Regions from separate parts of the Homo sapiens genome. Here region 1 is linked to region 2. The links come from fine-mapping of genetic effects on plasma protein levels. A gene starts in region 2. The other region holds a variant in brackets. All regions are shown on one strand. Distances are between the middles of the regions.

Region 1 (2,899 bases), 35 kb after region 2:
GTTTCATTAAAGACAACCTCATTTTTGAGAGACCATACAAGTCTTTAGCATTTGGGTAGGAATATTCCTGGCATCTCTCAGCCCCCGCTTTAACACAATCTTCCTGTGAGCCCAATCCACTCAGTTTTTTTCTGGATGAAAGGAAGAAATGGGATCTGTGTTTGCCACCGGAAGCTCACCCTTCTCAGCAGACAAGGCTGATTGTCTGTAATTGGTGAGGCCCCAAAGAGCACAGGAGCCTGGTGACAGCCTGTGAGCCAGCCTGCATTATTGATCCCCTCAGAGCTGTAATCACAGCTGTGGGCGTCAGCGCAGTGATGCGTGTCTGAGTCAAATGGCAAACTGTTGTTGTGAGGCTGGACAAATGTGGTCTGGGAAAATGGTCTCTTAATTGGGTTTTAAAGTTCTTGTGGAAGAAAAGACAATTTTTTGCTTCGAAAAAAACTGAAGATGAAAGGACATTTCTGCTCACGGCATCAGCAGCCAGAAGCGTCAGACCTTACCAGCATCCCCTCCTACCTCCTGAGCAGGCTTGCCATGGCAACCTTTGTCTGCTGCTATCGCACAGAGCCATCGTTCCTGCTCTGTACCACATGTCACCCTCCCCGTGCTTCTCTCCGCGAAGATCTGCTGCCAGCAAAGTGCAGAGAGCTCCACCTGACATCATGCTTGAGGCCACCAGGCCACCCTGGTGGCATCGGGGTGGTGTGGTTCTAGATGTGCTACTGACGATTTGCTCCTTCAGGCTTTTAAAACATCATTTTGTTGACTTAAGAAGGTGAATTTTCTCTTAGGACATGAACTAAGCTCCCCCATCCCCCCCCAGAGAAAAGCCATAATGAGTTGTCATGGTGATTCAGGTGATTCATGGTGACTCATTTCATTAGAATGTTCAGAGAATGAACACCTGCGTTCCAACGCTTCAAGCAGAGGGTAGAATTTAGCCGGGGAAGCTGCAGTCACGCCTGCTTGTCAAGCATCAGAACAGGGAATTGTGCCTTCCACCAGGCTTTTCATGTTACATTTCCAATGAGAATGGGTGGGACATGACAAACAAAATGTGTGTGGGGGCAGATAGGGGGACAGGAGGAAATCAGGGACAGGAATGATGGGGTACATAGGAGAAGTGTAAGTAAGGTACAATGCCTGCTCTCAGGGAGCCTGGGTTTCCTGGGATGGCTGATTTAGCTTTGCCAGCCAAAATTGGTTTCTCCCCTTCTCTCTCCTCTGGCCAAGGTTTGTAAACCTGGCCTAAAACAATGTCTAAAATCATTGCTCATGAAAATATAGCCTGAAGGAAATAAAGTACCCATTTTAGATGCTGAATTAAGAGACGCATATATCTGTATATTTGAACCCATCCATTAGTGCTACAGAAACATGAATAAATGTATTTATCTTTCAATATTACTGTCCCACCAAAGGATGTGGGTTGGCTCAAAAGAATAAGTAAAAGTAGTGTCAAGGCAAAGTCAAAATGAGAAATCAGGGTCAATGAAGAGAGCATCAAATGTTAAGAAGAGAGGTTAGCATTTCTACTTAATTATTTTATTATATATTTCTCTGTAAAAACCTATCATGTTATAAACTTTTTCAGAGTCAACAAGAACCTACCTTCTTTTATTTGCCCTTTCTAATGTCCTTTCATACTGGTCGGTAGATGGGTTTCTTCTACGACTTACTTAAGAGGGAAGGTGCTCGCTGCCCCTACCTTTCTAGGCCCATGGCACC[CT/T]AAAAAGCGCAGGCGTGGGCTCACTCCTAACCGTGCCCTACCTAGCTGCTGATTTGGGGCAAGTTAGTGAACCTCTCTGCACATCTGTTTCCCCACCTGAAGATGATAAAACACAAAAATGGGATTATTTTTACAACTTAAATGGGATAACATAGCAGGCCCTGAATCCATTAGTTTGCCAGGGGTTCCCTAACAAAATACCACTGACTGGGTGGATCGAAGAAGAATTTCTTTTCTCACAGTCCCGAAGGCTGCAAGTCCAAAATCAAAGTGTCCACAGGGTTGGTTCTCCTGGGGCCTCTCTCCTGGGCTTGCAGATGGCCACCTTCTCCCTGTGTCCTCACATGGTCTTCCCTCTGTGCACCCACATGTCTGGGGGCCACATTTCCCCTTCTTTTTATTTATTTATTTTTTTGAGACTGGGTCTCACTCTGTCGCCCAGGCTGGAGTGCAGTGTTGTAATTGCGGCTCACTGCAACCTCCGCCTCCCAGGCTCAAGTCATCCTCCCACCTCAGCCTCTCGAGTAGCTGGGACTACCAGGCACGCCACCATGCCTGGCTAATTTTTGTATTTTTATAGATACAGGGTTTCGGTATGTTGCCCAGGCTGGTCTCGAACTCCGGGGCTCAAGTGATCGACCCTCCTCTGCCTCCCAAAGTGCTGGGATTATAGGCAAATTTCATATTATCAGAAACATGTCAGATTGGATTAGAGCCCAGCCATGTGACCCCATTTTCTTTTAATTACCTCTCTAAAAAGCCTATCTCCAAATATGGTCACATCTGAGGTCCTGGGGGTTAGGGCTTCAACACATGAATTTTTGGGGACACAATTCAGCCCGTGTCATTAGGAATCAAAAGAAACCCTTTAAGGCATCTCTTAGTCTCAAGGAAAATGCACCCCTATTTTATAAACAAATGCAAATCGCTCTGTCCGAGTGAATATGAACGCAGAGTCAGGCTTGCATGCTGGTGCCCTGGGCCGTTCTCCTCTGATAGAGACAGGAGCAGTCGTCCTAGGCCAGGCTGGGGGCAGTCCATGAGGAGAAGCTCTCACAATACCTGGCGCAGGGAAGTGGTCAGAAATGTTAGCTGCTGCTGTTACACAAAATAGACCCACCAATGGCAAACTCATACCAACAGCTGAAGTGGTGGTCTCAGGTGTCA
Region 2 (2,865 bases):
TGGACACTACTAGTTCACTTTTTTGAGGATTTCAAAACTGAGGTCTCTCTTCTCTATGGATGTTTTTTTTCCAGTCCTATTGCTTCAAATATCATCTAAACACTTTCAACCCATAACTTTATTTCCTGTCTGGGCCTCTTTTTCTGAGCTGTACTGGACATCTCAAATCACACGATTTGTGGATATCTGAAATTTAATTCCCAAACTGAATCCTTGGTGTCCTTCACCTCCCCACACCCAATACTGGTCCACCCCAGTCTTCTTCCTCTCAGTCTATGACCGTCATCCCCTGCCCACTGGCTTCATCACTGGGTAGTCGTTCCATCCCCTTGACTCCTCCCCTTGTCCAGCAACCTCCTAACATGCACACACACACACGCACTTATGGGGAATATTAGCACGCTTCTTCATCTCAAGCCCCCCCTCCCTCCCCCAGCCCATCTCCTAGAATGGATTCACTTGAATTCACTCCTGGTTTGCAGGAAAGTGCAGAAATCCAAGGAATGTGGTGGGAATTGGTGGTCCAACTTAAAGGGTCTAACCCTTTCACCCTTATCTCCCTCTGATCCATTTTCTACCCCAGAGCCAGAGTGATCTTAAACCATAAGTAAGCTAAGGTTACTGCTTTCTAGAAACACTTCAATGCCTTCTATTACAGTTGGGGGGATACAAATTACGTAACGTGGCTTGCAAGACTCCCCCTCCCCTACTTTGAATGGTCCTTAGGAGTTGGCCTTCTGTCAGGGCCTGGGAGATGCCGAGCTTGATCCTCAGTAACTTTGCAGAGGCTGTTCCCTCTTTGGAGCCCTTCCCTCACTCTTCCCCTTACCAAGGACAATCACTTCTTCGGTTCTCAGCTCCTGTGAGACCCCAGGCGGGAGCATTTGGGTGTGCGTCATTGGAGGGCTCACTTGCCATTCTTTCTCTTTTCCCTCTTTCCTCCAATGGCTCCTGTGGAGGTTTTGAGACTCCTCAATGTCACTCTGCTTCTCTCTCCAGTTCCAGTCCTAACAATAGGAACCCTAGGTGCCCCGCCCCAGCCTGCTCCAGTCCCCTAGGATAGAGCAAGGAGAGCTCTTCCCTGCATCTAGCCTGTGACAAATGGCTCTAGTGACAGCCCTCTCTGCCTTGTTTCCAGTCCTTTAATGAGCTGCCCGCAGCCAGCCTCACTCTCACTCTGCTCTTCACACCCACTGAGCCCCACGCTTGGAGCTGCTGGGGGTCTGCCAGAAAGACCAGCTCCTAAGATCCCTGCAGGCTGTGCCTGCTCAACTTCTCAATGTGGCTTTCTCAGCCCTGCTTTGTGCTCTCATAAAATTCTATCGACTTTGGGGTTTTTTTATAAATTTGTCCAAATTCCACTCAGAGTATTGTTTCATGCATCTCAACTATGATTTTGATGGGTTTGGGGAAGGAAGGTGAGTTCCTGGGTTCTGCTGATATCTGAACCTGGAAATCTTACCCATATTGCTGAGTGCTGCACCGGGAAGTGCAGGCTTACTTTGGGGCTGCCTTCAGGGGCAGGAGGCTGTGTGCAATGCAGGCATCACCTGGTGCAGGGCTGGAACATATCAGATGACTTAATGGGCTCCAAACTTGAAATCAGGGCTGCTTAGTAAAAGATGGGATGTATGTAGAATTACATAAGAAAGATCCAAGCTTCCAGGATTTGGAATGAAACAGTCTCTTCAGAATGTGCTCTCAGGATTCCCAGAGGCGAGCTATTTCTCAAGATTTCCTTGACCTTTGTCACCATCAGGAATTAATGTTTAACTGGCACATGTGGCTGGAAATGCAAGAAGAGGGAAACGTGTGGCTTGGAGTTTCAAGAAGAGTGACTGTCTCAGTGCCGAGTGCCTCAGCAGCTTCTCCACATGCTCTTCAGTCCCCAAAGTTGGAGAATCCCATCAAGGAGAGTAGCCCTGTAAGGAATTCGAATTTCCAGCATGTAAGTCTCTGATTTTATACCTACTCAGATTGTAGTAGTGGAAAACAGCAACATGTACCTTGACTCTCTGGCCCCATGTTACTGAACATTTGCTTAAAGGTTAACTCACTTGAGGGAGCTTGTGTGGTGCTTTCTCTTCTGCTGCAGGCTGGCAGGGGTTTTTGTTCAGTGGGGGCTGTGCACTTGGTGGCTCTCCATGCACACACAGTCACTCCAGTGACACATGTTTGATAGGTGCTGGGAATGATTTCATGACTGGCTCAGTAGCAAATGCGGGCCAGATGTGATTCTATTTTTTCCATGCACCACCAGGGATGGTGTTGGGTATTTTATTCCCCCAGCCTCTGTTTCTTCTGTAAATGAGGATTTTCTTAGTATCTACCTTGTGAGGATTAAATCCCATGATTTTATGGAGGTGATTAGTAAATGTGAACTCTGCCCTTCCCTTTATAACATCTGAGGCTCCGTCAGGGCTCTCTCCTTTTGGTGTATGTTATAGTTTACTTAGAGGTCAATTTGGTGTCTACCTATGCAGTGTGATTTGAGGAGAATTAGAAGATCTTTCCCACCAACTTGCCATGCTGAGTACAATTCCCATCTGAAAACATATGCGGATAGGAATTTCTATTGGGAGAATTGTTCGGTTATCGACTTCAAGGAGTCGAAGTTCTCCTGGTTTTAAGTCTGTTGTCGGAAGTATATAAGAATCAAAGCTTAATCGATGGAAATCATTGCTCTCCATCATGCGTGAGTTAAAACCATTACTTCTGAGTGGTCAGTTTACATTGGGCTCTGTCTAGAAGGTTTGCCTTCTTCACCTCCAGTCACATCCCCATTTCACAAGTGAGCAAACAGCCAGAGGAGGGGAGGAGGATGGCATAAGATCTTGCAGCTGGCAGAGACGAAATGTGAATGTA

Alleles and levels. Alleles are on the strand shown, and positions count from the first base shown. The strength of an association depends on the size of the effect and on how common the allele is.
For the plasma level of the protein whose gene starts at base 1,828 in region 2, CT is the high allele of the variant in region 1 and T is the other (moderate association).

The links. A credible set is the group of variants that fine-mapping cannot tell apart. PIP is the chance, under the fine-mapping model, that this variant and not a neighbour inherited with it causes the effect. The UK Biobank Pharma Proteomics Project read protein levels with antibody pairs (Olink). The fine-mapping took linkage between variants from a reference panel, not from the people measured, so its PIPs are less certain.
Region 1: its variant is the best candidate, but not a certain one, in a credible set for the plasma level of the DDC protein (UK Biobank, PIP 0.69).

Annotation. Positions count from the first base shown.
Region 1 is chr7:50,529,503-50,532,401 of GRCh38, reverse strand. The region is part of intron 4 of DDC (dopa decarboxylase); the gene reads left to right. It overlaps DDC-AS1 (DDC antisense RNA 1), which reads right to left and starts at 643. Exons shown (of 5, transcript NR_033845.1): 1 at 520-643. RefSeq lists enhancers at 1-1,193, 1,553-1,722, 1,571-1,740. The variant CT/T (reference allele first, on the strand shown) is at 1,732.
Region 2 is chr7:50,564,368-50,567,232 of GRCh38, reverse strand. It overlaps DDC (dopa decarboxylase), which reads left to right and starts at 1,828. Exons shown (of 15, transcript NM_001082971.2): 1 at 1,828-1,948.